Linked DNA regions of Homo sapiens: all the other regions are reported to be linked to region 1. The links are microRNA targets in miRTarBase. Many come from high-throughput screens and were not tested one by one. Region 1 holds a microRNA gene; each other region holds the end of a gene's coding sequence.
What was found. The annotated mature microRNA hsa-miR-7110-3p reads UCUCUCUCCCACUUCCCUGCAG and lies in region 1 at 4,259-4,280, opposite strand. An mRNA with a match to its seed (bases 2 to 7 or 8) in the 3' UTR can be bound and repressed. Matches are read on the target gene's strand: a 7mer-m8 pairs with bases 2 to 8, a 7mer-A1 pairs with bases 2 to 7 and ends in A, and an 8mer does both.

Region 2: the mRNA of CCBE1 is a reported target of hsa-miR-7110-3p. Seed matches in the 3' UTR shown: 7mer-A1 at 2,558-2,564 and 7mer-m8 at 2,559-2,565.
Region 3: the mRNA of TGFBR3 is a reported target of hsa-miR-7110-3p. Seed matches in the 3' UTR shown: 7mer-A1 at 3,849-3,855, 7mer-A1 at 3,936-3,942, 8mer at 3,937-3,944, 8mer at 3,939-3,946 and 7mer-m8 at 3,941-3,947.

What each region holds. Positions count from the first base shown.
Region 1 is chr3:123,160,562-123,166,137 of GRCh38, reverse strand. It overlaps MIR7110 (microRNA 7110), which reads right to left and starts at 4,344; the gene lies at 4,259-4,344. It overlaps PDIA5 (protein disulfide isomerase family A member 5), which reads right to left. Exons shown (of 17, transcript NM_006810.4): 16 at 4,683-4,817; 17 at 4,034-4,258. The coding sequence ends at 4,178.
Region 2 is chr18:59,433,284-59,437,571 of GRCh38, reverse strand. CCBE1 (collagen and calcium binding EGF domains 1) reads left to right here. Exons shown (of 11, transcript NM_133459.4): 11 at 1,431-4,288. The coding sequence ends at 1,664. Among named protein-coding and RNA genes, the nearest start is that of LMAN1, 76 kb to the right of the region's middle.
Region 3 is chr1:91,681,055-91,685,342 of GRCh38, reverse strand. TGFBR3 (transforming growth factor beta receptor 3) reads left to right here. Exons shown (of 17, transcript NM_003243.5): 17 at 1,486-4,288. The coding sequence ends at 1,604. Among named protein-coding and RNA genes, the nearest start is that of CDC7, 180 kb to the right of the region's middle. RefSeq lists enhancers at 525-604, 1,084-1,587.

The sequences.
Region 1 (5,576 bases):
AAAGAGAATAAGAGAATATCTTATTCTCCAAATAAGATAGACAAATGGAAAATAAACATATGAAAAGATGCTCAAGGCCGAGTAAGGTGGCTCACACCTGTAATCCCAGCACTTTGGGACGCTGAGGTGGGCAGATCATTTGAGGTCAGGAGTTCAAGACCAGCCTGACCAACATGGTGAAACCCCGTCTCTACTAAAAATACAAAAATCAGCCAGGTGTGGTGGCAGGCGCCTATAATCCCAGCTACTCAGAAGGCTGAGGTATGATAATCGCTTGAACCCGGGAGGCGGAGGTGGCAGTCAGCCAAGATGGCACTATGGCACTCCAGCTTGGGTGACAGAGTGAGGCTCTGTCTCAAAAAAAAAAAAAAAAAAAAAAAAAAAGATGCTCAAAATCACTAATCGTTAGGGAAACACATTTCAAAACCACAATGAGATGCCACTTCACACCCATTAGGATGGCTACTATTAAAAATGAAACCAAACCAGAAAATAACTGTTGGCGAGGATGAGGAGAAATTGGAACCCTCGTGCCTTGCTGGTGGAAACGCAGAATGGTGCAGCCACTGTGGAAAATGGTCTGTCCATTCCTCAAAAAACTAAAAATAGAGTTACCAGATGACCCAGTAACTCCACCTTCAAAAGAATTGAAAATGGGATGTCACAGAGGTATTTACTTGTACATCTATATTCACAGCAGCATTCTTCACAATAGTCAAAAGGTGAAACTGACCCAAATGTCCACTGATGGATGAATGGGTAAACAAAATATGGTATGCACATACAATGGAATATTATTCAGCCTTTAAAAAGGTATGAGATTCTAATACATGCTACATACTTTCAAGAATGAACCTTGAAAACAGTGTGCTAAGTGAAATATGCCAGATACAAAAGGATGTATGATTTTGCTTATATGAGGTTCCTAGAATAGTGGAATTCATAGAGACAGAAAGTAGAATAGTGGTTACCCGGGCTAGGAGGAGTGGGGAATGGAGAGTTATTCTTTAATGGTTATGGAGTTTCAGTCTGGGTTGATGAAAAAGTTCTAGAGATGGATCATAATGATGGTTGGACAACAATGTAAATGTACTTAGTGCCACTGAATTGTACCTTTAAAAATGATTAAAATGGTAAATTGTGTGCTATGTATATTTTACCACAATATAAAAAGGCATAGACATACACACCTTCACTCAGCTGCAGTAGCCAAATTTCAAGTACTCAATACTCATATGTGGCTAATGGCTATTGGATAACACTGGCCTAAAATAGAAGATTTTGGAGGTGACATATATTTGGTGGGACCATAAGCATAATTTGGTTTTGATAGATAGCTTAAGAATATCAGCTTCCTTCTTCTAGTCAACAATAAAAGAATGGGAAACAGTAAGAGCACAATGCACAGAGTTTGGTTCTGAGCACCAATGTGCACTCACTCTCAAACTGGGAGCCTCCTGCGGGCAGGGCTGGTGCCTGTGTTATTCCATGTGATGTGGGCAGGTGATGTAACCCCTGGACATAGGCTTTGCCTTCCTAAGAGGGCCTGATGCTTTCCAGATGAGATTCCACATCTTCTTACGTTGCGGTGGAGAAAACCAGCTTCTGAACCTGGAAGCATCACCTTCCCGTGCCCGGCGCAGAACAGCTCCTGGAAGCCAAACACCTCTAGAAGGGGAGGGAGCAGCATGAGGAAGGTAAGAGAGACAGGGTCCTGCTCGGAAGGCTCCAGTTAGGTGGTGATGGGGACTCACTGCTGGGCAAGGGGCACCAGAATAAAGATGGGGATCAGTTCTCCCCTAACTCACGTACTTCCTGCAGAGAAATCAGCCTGCAACGCAGGATCCAGGCGAACAGAGGAGGGTGATAGCAAGCCCTCCAGTGGGGCAGAGGGAGGAGGTCTGCACTAAACATCAGTGAAACCACAAAGAACCAAGCATGGTGACTGGGAGTAGAACTAACCCGGATGCCAGGGGGCGAGTGGAGGAAGAGAGTTCTGTCCGCAGGGGGAGCTGCCCAGAGCTGCGACGAAATTTGCTGAGGTCATGCCCAAAGTCAATAAATAGGGATGTGAAGAGGATTCCATTTCATGATGTGTTAAAAAATTTCTTTAAATCTATATTTGACAATATTTCATGTTTTTAAGTCTTCAAATAGAAGCTAAGCCAGGAAAATCTGAACTCTGAGGATGTGGAATGGCCAGAAAGTAAGCCCTGTGCCTCGCAGGTGGGCACTAGTGGTCCTCAGCCAGGAAGTGGCTCTTGTGAGATTATTATTGAAAAGGTGCAGTAAAAAAAACCCAAAAACAAACAAACAAAAAACTTTTTTGAAAAACACAAGCAAATATGTTCCCCCTACAAATACTCCAAATAACGAAGGAGACCCATGTCCAGACACACACATGCTAGAATGGTAAACACCTGTGTCAGGATTAAATGACACCTTGTAAGATGTTCATGGTCCCCAACAGGAAGGGACTCAATAATTGTGTTTCAATGATGTCTAAATGTATGCTTCTGTCTTTCATATCCAATCCTTGGGTGAAGTCCAGGGGCCACTGCCAAGGAAGTGGGTGCTTAGGGGAAAAGAGAAGAGCTGAACTGGCAGGAGGGTCAATTGGAAAGTTGGAGAACTGCACAGAACAAGGGCTCTCAAAACCTTGATTTCCCTTAATGAAACCACCCACAGTGGCACCATCGTCAAAACAGCTGTGAAGAACTTGGAGGCTCTGTCCTCCTCTCAGCAGATTCATCAGCAGGAAGGACTTAGGCCAGGAGGAAGGGAGCTGGGTCCAGGAAAGGAGGGCTGTTCCTGCAGGCCAAGTCCCCATCAAGGCCACCAGAGCGTGCTTCCAAGTACTGCAGCTTAAGCAACGCCCCCCTGAACTACTGGAGGAATCCAACTCTAGGACCGCTACTTATAACTAAAGACAAGATACTAGCACAAGGCCACTCTGCTGTCCATGGAGAAATACCACCAAGCAGACAAAACATGTTACTGCTGTGCTCAGGCTCTGCCTGCACCGCTGGGCACAGGGCTGGGGTGTCAGTCACGCAGGAATGCAGAAAGCAGGAGGACTCACCAGAAAGGTGGGTCAAAAAGGAGATGTACACAGGCAGGAGGCCGAGCAAGGCACCCATCCATGGAAAACGTGGCGTAAAGATTTGGGGTTATTATGGTTGGTGGTGGGGGCTGGTGAGCAGATCTAATATCTGCACCTCGAGAACACACCATCCCTTCCAGCCAGGGTGCACAGCAAGCAGCTGGCACAGAGCCCCCCTTCCCCCACTCCATTCATGCCCCTGAAGCGGCAACTTAATTTTCTTTAAAGGGAGATTGGGGAGGGAATGGAGAGACGAAGAGAAGACAAATAGCTGGAGAAAGATAAATACCTAAGTAAGTTCCAGGAAAACACACACAGAGGAAACACACCAATGCTGAAACCGCAATGATCCAGAAGAAGCTAGTGTTTGGTTACCATTTGCTTCAGCATCCCAATTTCCCTGATCATCTTTTGTTTTTTTCTTTCTTTTTCTTTTTCTATTTTTGAGACAGGTCTTGCTTTCTAGCTAGGCTGGAGTAGTCATGCGATCATAGATCATTGCAGCCTTGAACTCCTGGGCTCAAGAAATCTTCCCTTCCCAGCCTTACAAGTAGCTGGGACTATAGGCATGTACCCCTATGCCCAGCAACTTTATTTTCTGTAGACATGAGGTCTCATAATGTTTCCCAGGCTGGTCTTGAACACCTGGCTTCAAGTGATCCTCCCACCTCAGCCTCCCAAAGTCATTGATCATCTTGACGTATTTCCTCTCATTAGCTTGTCATTTTCCAGCAGGATATTCTGCGGTCCAGTTTCCCTGTTCTGCTCTCAAATGACTGACAGGGGGCCGACACCCTCAGGAGTCACCTCCATGCAGATGGGGCACTGGAGCACTGCTCTGTACCTCCCAGCAGAGGTGGTGGAATGAGGAGGATGTGAGTATCCACCTTTTTTAGTACAGGCTCCACGAAAATAAACCATACCACCAAATAAATGGTTTAATTTTATTTCAAAATTGTACAAAATGGCCATAAGCGGCTATAAAAAATTTGTCTTCAGAACATGTGGAAATTCAGAAACAACAAAACAGGTATCATTCACAGTGTAATGGAAAAGCTTTTTCTGAGGCAGGAATTATAACTCTTCCTTCTTTTTCCCTAGTCTTTCATGGTCTCCCTCCCGGAGGGCTCGAATATAATTGGTAAATCCCAATTCCTGCAGGGAAGTGGGAGAGAGAGAGAGAGAAAGAGCTTTAATCCCTGAGCTGGCTGTGCACTCTCTCTCCCCACACCCCCAGCCCCTCCAGGGGGTCACTCCTATGACAGGGAGAGGTGGGCAGACTTCTGCAAGGTGGAGAGGGTCTGCGTGGCTTGCACCAGCCCCGACCAGCAAGTGAGAAAACCCTCGGCATCTGGAGTCCAGCCTGCCTCTGGGGACAGGACATCTGTGGCAACCCCTTGGGACTCTCCTCCAACAATGTCAAGCCTCAGCCAGGCCCAGGGCCTGGGCCTCTCGGTGCAGTGTTCCAGCTGACTTCTGCAGTTTCTGGGATGCTGCCCAGTGCTGCCCCTCCTCAGTGGAAGTTTCCCTGCCCATCAGCAGAGAGAGAGCTCTGGGCAGACGCCTCTCCCCCACTTACTGTGCGGTCGCTGTCATACTTTTCTGCGAACTTCCCATAGTGGTAGTAGTGGAAAGTGGGGTAGCCCTTGACCGCCTCCTGCTGGCACAGGTCTTGGTTCTTGTCTTTGACACAGTCAACAGCGGCACAGGCAATCTAGGAGCCAAGGTAAAGAGAGTTGGCACAGGGTGTCCCCAGGCTGAGGCCTGGACCCCACAACACAGATTGCACATCTAGTCCACGTCACAGGCCCACTCTGATTTTTCTCCTCAGTGGCAGGTAGGAACTGAACCAAAGCACCCCCAGCTCAGGACTCCTTGGAGACTGATGGTGCTTGTTTTCAATTTCCAGATGGGTAAGGTTAGGGGACTCGGCCTGGAGTGCCTTTAGACTGTCCTTTAAAATCAAGAGTATGATGATCGTAAAGGAAATGATGACTTGAAAGCATTTGTAAACACCACAGGTTCTGTGGTGCTATCTGTAAGGGACTGTAGGATTTAATCATTTCTCCACTAATATTTCCGGAACATTAGCTTGGGGGGACAGTATAGTGCCAAGGTTAAGGGCAAGAGCTTTCAAGTCAAGTTCCCCAAGTGCACTCTTGGTTTGCCTGGACAGTAAGACTTAAGGAAAATAACTCAGCCTCTTGGTGCCTCATTTTTTTCAGCTGTAAAATGGGGATAATAATAGTATCTAGGCTATCAGGATATTGTGAAGACTGAATAAGAGAATTCCAGTGAGGCCAGTGAGCACAGAACCTGGCACCAGATTCATGGTCAGGAAATGTCAGCTGCTATTACAGTCACTTCTTCCAACCCCATATACAAGCTCTGTCCCCACTTAGGGGCTCAGTGTCTGGGCAGGGGTTGGATAAAGGGACAATTCCAACATGATGTGATGTGAGGGATGAGGGAG
Region 2 (4,288 bases), not on the chromosome of region 1:
GTCACTGCTTCTGAAGAAGTATCATTTCTGAAATCCAGCGGCTGTGGCCACAGAGGTAGGAGTCGTGGGTTCCCATCTCAACTCTTCTACCTGCTGGCTTTCTGACCACGGGCACTTCACTGAGGGTCTCTGGGCATTCTTGCCCCCCACTGTGCAGTGGCGATAGTGGAATCTGACCTGCCATCCCTGAAGTGGCTACTGTGAGGGTCAAATGATATGAAAATACTGTGCCTCTCTTAGTGCTTTACGGTGTAAGCTCTGCTTCCACGGTGCCCGCTGCTGTAGCAGCAGTTGCGGGAGATGATAACGATTTTACTACAAGCTTCTGACAAGCCCAGAACATGCGTGTTTGTGCATTTCTTTTTTACCATGCCCCACACAGCGCTATATGAAATTAAGGCTTAGTAAATACTATATGATGATAAAGGATACTCAATACATAGAAAAATTAGGAAGATTTTGTTTGGACCTTTCCTAGTCAACGAGGAGTTGACGTCTTTACAACATCCTCTCAACTTCATTTAGTTTGTGCTTATAGTCAGCCATCTTATAAACATTTTAATAATTTTGCTTTTAAAAAATAACAGCATTGTTTTTTTTGAGACAGGGTCTCACTCTGTCACCCAGGCTGGAGTGCAGTGGCACAATCTTGGCTCACTGCAGCCTCGACCTCTTGGGCTCAAGTGATCCTCCCACCTTAGCCTCCCAAGTAGCTGGGTCCACAGGTGCCCACCACCACACCTGGCTAAATTTTTGTTAAATTTTTGTAGAGACAGGGTTTCACCATGTTTTCCAGGTTGGTCTTGAACTCCTGGGCTCAAGCTATCCATCCACCTCGGCCTCCCAAAGTGCTAGGATTATAGGCGTGAGCCACCACACCTGGCCCAGATAACATTTTTGAATACGTATTATGCTCAAAGCCCTTTACACGTATTTACTTGCTTAAATCCTCACTTATGAATCCTACAAAACCCTATGAAGTTGGGACTATTATTATCCCCGTTTTACAGATGGGGAAACTGAACCACAAGAAATTAAGATGACACAGCTAGTAAGCGGCAGAGATGAGATTCAAATCCAACAGAACCCCAGTCTCTTAACCACTGCTCTGCTGCCTTCATAAGCATCTTCCAGACTGCTTTGGAAAGTAACCTAGGAGAGTTATTCTTATATCCTTTCCTCTACTGGATTTGATAAAGCGTTAGGAGGGAGGAAAGGTGAATACATCACCAAAGCTCAGCTGAGAAGTGACAGAATTAGAAAACAATATGGAGGACCCCCAGGCTCCTGTAGCAGTCCTCACATTGGCTCCATTTGGGGCACAGAGTTATTGAGAAAGTAGTTGCCAGCAAGCAGCAGGTCAAGTCATGGAGCCCCGGAGGCCATTGCTGTCTGTCGTATTCTAGCTTTGATTCCTCCCATGTACACAGGGACCCCCTGGTTCTTTCGACTTCCTGCTACTTATGCTGGCTGACATCCGCAATGACATCACTGAGCTGCAGGAAAAGGTGTTCGGGCACCGGACTCACTCTTCAGCAGAGGAGTTCCCTTTACCTCAGGAATTTCCCAGCTACCCAGAAGCCATGGACCTGGGCTCTGGAGATGACCATCCAAGAAGAACTGAGACAAGAGACTTGAGAGCCCCCAGAGACTTCTACCCATAGCACATCCCAACACCGTCACGCCAAAGGAAGAGAAAGATCAACTCACCTGCAGTTAAACCATCTAAAGAGAAGAAAGACCACTGGAGACCTAGAAAACATACATTTTTCTCTTCTCTTCTCCTGACGTCTCTCCACTCCTCTTCTTCCAAATACGATGCTATTTTCAGAGTCCCCTCCTAGGCCTGCAGACATGAGGGAGTGAATGATTGATTTACCTGCTTCTCACTAAGAGTCCATTGGGGTGGTTTGCATTGTAACTTTTCTTTTACATCCTATTTTTCCAGGAACTTTGGATTTAAGTACTCTCACAGTGTCTTAAATCATAAATTCTTGAAGTTAAATTTGGCAGAGTATCAAAAGGGGGAAAATGACAAAGTGAGCTCTAAGAAAATGTGAGGCTACTTCTAAGATGTGTGTTCACAATAGACCATAACTCCTCTAGTATCAAAATTGGGGCTCTTCAGTTAAAAAGGGGTGGGGAGGACAAACGTGTCGATGTGCTTTGGTGGAGAATTTTTTCCTTGTGCTTCTAGTAGACTTTAAATATTGTATCCCTTTGTCAAACCTTGTTTCCCAAATTCAATTAAAGAGAGGAGAGAATTGAATGGCGTTTAGAGAAGATAGAAAAGAATCACAGTCATATATTTACTGTTATATAGATTGCCACATTCTAAAATTCAAATACGGTGCTTAAGGTTTCATGCCATGCTTATCTGTAAGTATCCTATTTAGGGAAGAAGATTAAACTCTCTTTTCAAAAAAACAAAGTGAAATGCCTGGATTCACATTAAAACAATGGGCTCTCGTTTGCTATAATATTTTAAAGCTGTTTAATCAACAGTGGAGTCTGCTCTATAAATATAGATTATTTGTTCAATAAACTGGCTGAGCTTAGAGAGAGGTGCAGAATTCCTGGTTCTGAGCAGGTGCCCAGAAGGTACCATTAGGTGCCATGATCCAGGCTGAACCAATATACAGTGGGGCTGAAGTCTGCAAGGAGGTTGCTGGCTTGGGCTGACCTCACTAATGCCATCAGCAGCGGTAGGTAAATTTTTTCTCCTTGGGTATTACAAGTTTTTGTCTGGAGCCAACCAAGCTTGCCACCAACATATTGAGAGTAATACACTATTGAAAGTTATCTTGGATGGGGAGAAAAAAAAATAGTGGTTTTCCTTGTTTGCAAAAACTTCCTTCCTATTCTCATTTTTTCTTAATTTTCTTTAATTTAGTCCAAGTTCCAGTTCTTTTAGGCCTTCTCTTTGATTTATTTTCCCCTGCATGTGAGAAGCAGTTCAGAAAAAGGTCTATATCTCCACCTCCTAGTGAGTTAGAGTGTTTTCTCAGAGCACCTCTGGGTGGCAAAGGGAAGCATGTTCCTGCCAAGGTTTGCTGTGGATTCAGAAGCACCAGGAGCAAGAGACCAGAAGGATGATCTGCTCCTTTGTAACGTTGTTGAGGGCCCTCTTGTTTCCAATGAGCAGCTTATAGGTTACTCACAGTCCACTTTCTCACTGGACACACAAAGTGGCTCTTTATCTACCTTTGCGGGAGATTTTCACTCTCCTGCAAATGATCGTTCTCACACTCATATTAGCTCATGTTGGAATTTCCCATCCTGCCATGTCCTTTCCCATTTCTTTTTGGCTTTTTTGCCTCCACCTTTTAGCCCACATCATTTAACTCCACTACTGTGAAAGCTTGCTTAAAGAAAATCCCTCTTGGCCGGGTGTGGTAGCCCACGCCTCTAATCCCAGCACTTTGGGAGGCTGAGGCGGGGAGATCACAAGGTCAGGAGATCGAGACCAGCCTGACCAACATGGTGAAACCCTGTCTCTACTAAAAATACAAAAATTAGCTGGGCGTGTTGGCACACACCTGTAATCCCAGCTACTCAGGAGGCTGAGGCAGGAGAATTACTTTAACCTGCGGGGGGAGCCTAGATTGCGCTACTGCACTCCAGCCTAGGCAACAGAGGGAGACTCTGTCTCATTAAAAAAAAAAAAAAAAAAAAAAAAAGGCCGGGCTTGGTGGCTCATGCCTGTAATCCCAGCACTTTGGGAGGCCGAGGCGGGCGGATCACGAGGTCAGGAGATCGAGACCACAGTGAAACCCTGTCTCTACTAAAAACACAAAAAATTAGTCGGGCGTGGTGGTGGGCGCCTGTGGTCCCAGCTGCTCGGGAGGCTGAGGCAGGAGAATGGCGTGAACCTGGGAGGCGGAGCTTGCGCTGAGCCGAGATCGTGCCACTGCACTCCAGCCTGGGCGACAGAGCGAGACTCTGTCTCAAAAAAAAAAAAATATCCCTTTTGTTGTGTTTGAATGCCACCTTTCAGTCTTCTTCCTTAAGAATGTTAGGAAGGGGCTTTGCAAACCTCTAGTGGCAACAGTCTTCCTTCCCTTCTTCCTACCACGTTGGAAATGCAGGACTCATGTCAGTCAGCATGTGACCGAGTCTTTCATGAACACTTTGCTCCTCTATGTCTCATTTATGCAAAATTCCTGGTGACTCTCCACTAACATTTTTAAAGTGAAAGCAAACTTTCACTTTAAAAAAAGTGAGCGAGAGGATCCCTTGAGCCCAGGAGTTCAAGGCCAGTCTGGGCAACATAGCAAGACCCCATCCC
Region 3 (4,288 bases), not on the chromosome of region 1:
TCACAAAAAAAAAAAAAAAAAAAAAAAGGCAGTGCTTCTCCGCTTCTCAGGAATATTGACCCCAGTCCCCTATCCATCCCGCCAATCCCAGAAGAAAAGATAATTAGAGGAAGTACAACAAGGGCCAAACTTACAACAAGCACATAAATACTTTGAGGTTGATGCAAAAGTGTGTATAGCTGTGTGGTTCATGAAAGGGGTGACAGGAAAAGCTGTAACCAGACCCAGGGACATGAGCCAGTTCTACATTTTGCAGAACTGCTTTTTTCACAGAGGCTTTTGAGGGGCCCCAGAAAGAGAATGGAAGTAATGGGGCCAAGTTCCTGCACTGGAGGGCAGGGCCTTTCCTCGAGTGTTTTGTTTTAATGAAGCAGCTGGAAGGGTTGCTTATCTCCGGCTGATAGATGTGTATTTCAGCATGACAGGAAAGAGGAGGCTCATTCATAAACAGGCCTGGCCCTCTGGGGTTTCCCACATTGAAGGAGGGGATGCTGCTTACAAGAAGTTTATGAAGTTTATGCTCTGACTTTTCAAAGTAAATGCAGTGTTTTTTATTGGAGAGCCCTGATCGCTTTTCCCTACCTAGAGCCATTTTTTGAGGGTTGCACTGAGGCCGGTTTTGCCGAAGAGAAGACTAACTCTAGGGCCTTTTGCACTGTTAAATGCAAACCATGTGTGTGACTTGAGGTTTCCTTCCTCTCCAAAGCACTGCACATTTGGCACGATGAATGGCTTTAGCTAAAATGCAGTGGGGTGTGTAATGAAAAGTGGGATGCTTAAAGTGTTAGGAGATACTCACACTGCACCCCACAGGGAACCTCAGTGGGGAAGAGAGGCCATTCGCTGGCAACTGCAGTCCCCATGTGCAAACAGCTAAACCCCTTCCCCAAAAGGTTTTTCCAATAGCAGCTATCCCCCACCCCGGTTTCTCAGGTAATTTATCTGTTTGGCACACAAGGCTCTCTCTACTGTAGCTAGGACAAAGTCTATATTTCACTCCTGTTTTTAACAAGTGCATTCAGAACAAGGCTCCCAAACTTCCAGGGTTCTCTTAACTACAATTGAAAGGTCACACCCTCCAAATCCTACAGTGTCTTTATGAGAGAAGATGGACAGTGTTTCCTGAATACAGGTGCTGGTCAGTTGCCAGCTCACACAGACCAAGTGGTGGTGATTTCATCAAAGGTTGTGGACCCTGAAATCCAGGGACTTTGTCATCAACTCTCAGGGGTCTTAGCCACTAGAGCTGCCTGTCAGTCAGCTGTCTTCTTTTTCCCATTCATGATGCTTTAAAAATAAAACAACAAATAGCAAAACCTTATTTTAGAAGGTATTCCAGCCATCTAGGACCTAGTCTAGTTGCTTCTGCCCTGGTTGAGAAAAATATCAGTTAAAATGGCAAATGCGGAATAAATGATCTTTTCAGGAATGCACATACATAATATGCGTCTTTCTCTGACTCTGCCTTTTCTTTATTAACTGCAGGGGAGACAGCAGGAAGGCAGCAAGTCCCCACCTCCCCGCCAGCCTCGGAAAACAGCAGTGCTGCCCACAGCATCGGCAGCACGCAGAGCACGCCTTGCTCCAGCAGCAGCACGGCCTAGCCCAACCCAGCCCAACCCGGCCCAACCCAGCCCAGCCCAGCTCAGCTCAGCTACTGCCAAGGGCAGGACCAATGGCTGAGCCTCGTGTCCAGACTCAGAGGGCTGGATTTTGGTTCCCTTGTAAAGACAGAGTGAATTTCAGTATAAAGATCACCCGTTGTATTCACCCCACACCCAGGGCTAGTATAAACATGACCCTGGGCTTCTGTACCACACTAGAATTCATGTGAGAAAGCTAAAATGGTGGTCTTCTCCACCAGCCCCTCACAGGCTTGGGGGTTTTCAATGTGAAACACATGCCAGTTTTTAAAATGCTGCTTTGTCCAGGTGAGAACATCCATAATTTGGGGCCCTGAGTTTTACCCAGACTCAAGGAGTTGGTAAAGGGTTAATAGCCAGATAGTAGAACCAGTGAGGAGATGCGGCCAAAGATTCTTTATATCTGAACCAAGATGTAAAACAAGAAATGCTTTGAGGCTTTCTAAGCGATCCTCCTGTCTAATTTGCACCTTTGTCTGGATGCACACTTCTGACCTTGCTGCCACAACCTGTGGGGTCTGATGTGTCCCTTGATGGGTGCTGCCCTCAGGGACTGCACCCTGACAAGTGTTAAGGCAACATTCCTTTCTTGTGCCCTGGGCCAAAACCAATGCTGATGACCTTATCAGCTTCCTGTTTCTTCCCATACTTGCATACACCACTGCAAAATGTCTTAATGCAAATTTTGTATTTCTTACAGGCCTACAGAAATTGAAAATGACCAAAATCAGGAACCACAGATTTGTGCCCATTCCTAATATTTTGTTCTGCAAATTAATGTATAATTTGAGGTGAAATTCAGTTATAAAGTCAAGGACGAATTTGCACAGTGATATATTTCTATGTGTATGCAAGTACAAGTATATAATATGTCACCTGGCACATTCATTTTCTCAGTTGAAGAAGAGAAAATTTGAAAATGTCCTTATGCTTTTAGAGTTGCAACTTAAGTATATTTGGTAGGGTGAGTGTTTCCACTCAAAATATGTCAACTTAAAAAAAAATAGGCCCTTTCATAAAAACCAAACTGTAGCAAGATGCAAATGCATGGCAAATCCTGTCGGTCTCCAGTTGGTTATCTGAATAGTGTCACCAATTCCACCAAGACAGTGCTGAGATTGGAAAAGGGCACTCATTTGGATTGCCTTACTTCTCTTGCCTTAAATATATCCCATATATTTAATATGTCAAAAAGGGCTTGAGGTGAATTTCATTAAATGGAATAATATGATGCCACTTTGCAGCTAAAATAAGCTCAGTGATACCTCCTTGTTAAAAAAAAAAAAAAAAAAAAAGAATGCCAGGGGGGAATTATCATGCTAAATTATTTTACTGCTGAAGATAGCTTCATTGCAAATTATTCTTTTTCCAGAATTTCCCCCAAACAACTTAGAATTCCATAAGTAGAACAAGATAGATTCTACCCCCAAAATATTCATAAGCAAATCCCACTGCCCTTAAAATAAGGAAGTTATGCCTGGTTGTCTGTGAATGGAACCTCAGTAGGTAATCCTGATGAAGCTTAAAACCTTAGGGCAGTGTCTACATGGGAAACAAGTATGTGGAAATTGACAATCATTTTTACCAAATCGTTGAGTAATAATATGACTTACCTGATAGATATACACATTCAATAAGGAACATTTTTTTTTTTCAATAAGGAACATTTTAACTAAAACATTACTTTAGGGCTGAGATTTCCAGGCTATCTACATTGATCTACTGAAAAATTTCTAGATTTCCATATACAAACGAAGAAGACATGAGTTTAGAGAATTTTTTTCCTTTAATTTTTTTTTAACAGAAGGGTATCAGAGTGGAGGACCTAGATTACGCTACCTGTGTTTGAAAATATTGCGCTTTGCCTAACCTTCGGTGGAATGTATTGTTTCAGCATATTCTATGTATAAAAAAGTTTAAAGATGTCTTCAAAGAAGACTAGAGTCTTTAAGTCACTTATAGCTATATTTTACTACAAAATTTGTGTATAAAGATATATTTAAGTGTTTTAGATAAATTTAAGTTACTCCATATGAAATGTTTAATTTCAGCTACTGTGAATTCTTTCGATCAGTCCTTTGCTTTTTTAAAAAATCTTTTCCATCGTGTTAAAAAGAAAATTAGCTATTAGGAGATATTAAAAGATTGATGTCTTAGAAGGACAGGGTTAAAACCTTCTGTAATATATTTAAATATATATTTTTAAGAGAGATGCTACATTGCCAATGATTTTATAAATAATTTAAAATTAATTTACAAATTTATAGATGCAAACCAAAAGATCTTTTTAAAAGAGAGAGAGAGGAAAAAAATCACCTTTTATTTGTTTGGGTCTCATTGTCAGAATTATTATTCAGATCAAGAAATCTGTGTCGATAAAACCTAATCTCATATTGGAGAGTGAATGTCGTTAAGTATTTCTGAAATGTTTCTAAAAAATGAACATGAAAAAAATAAGGTATTTTCTCCCTAGCTTCTCATTACAGTATTTCTAATTGCTTCACACTTTACAGTTTTAATACAAAGTACAAGCTCTACTTTTATAACGTGTACTACAAGTTTCTTTAAAAGTATTGTTGTATTTCAGCTGAACTCTTGTATCTGCAGTCTTTTGTTATTTCTGCAGGCTACACCCTTAATTTGCA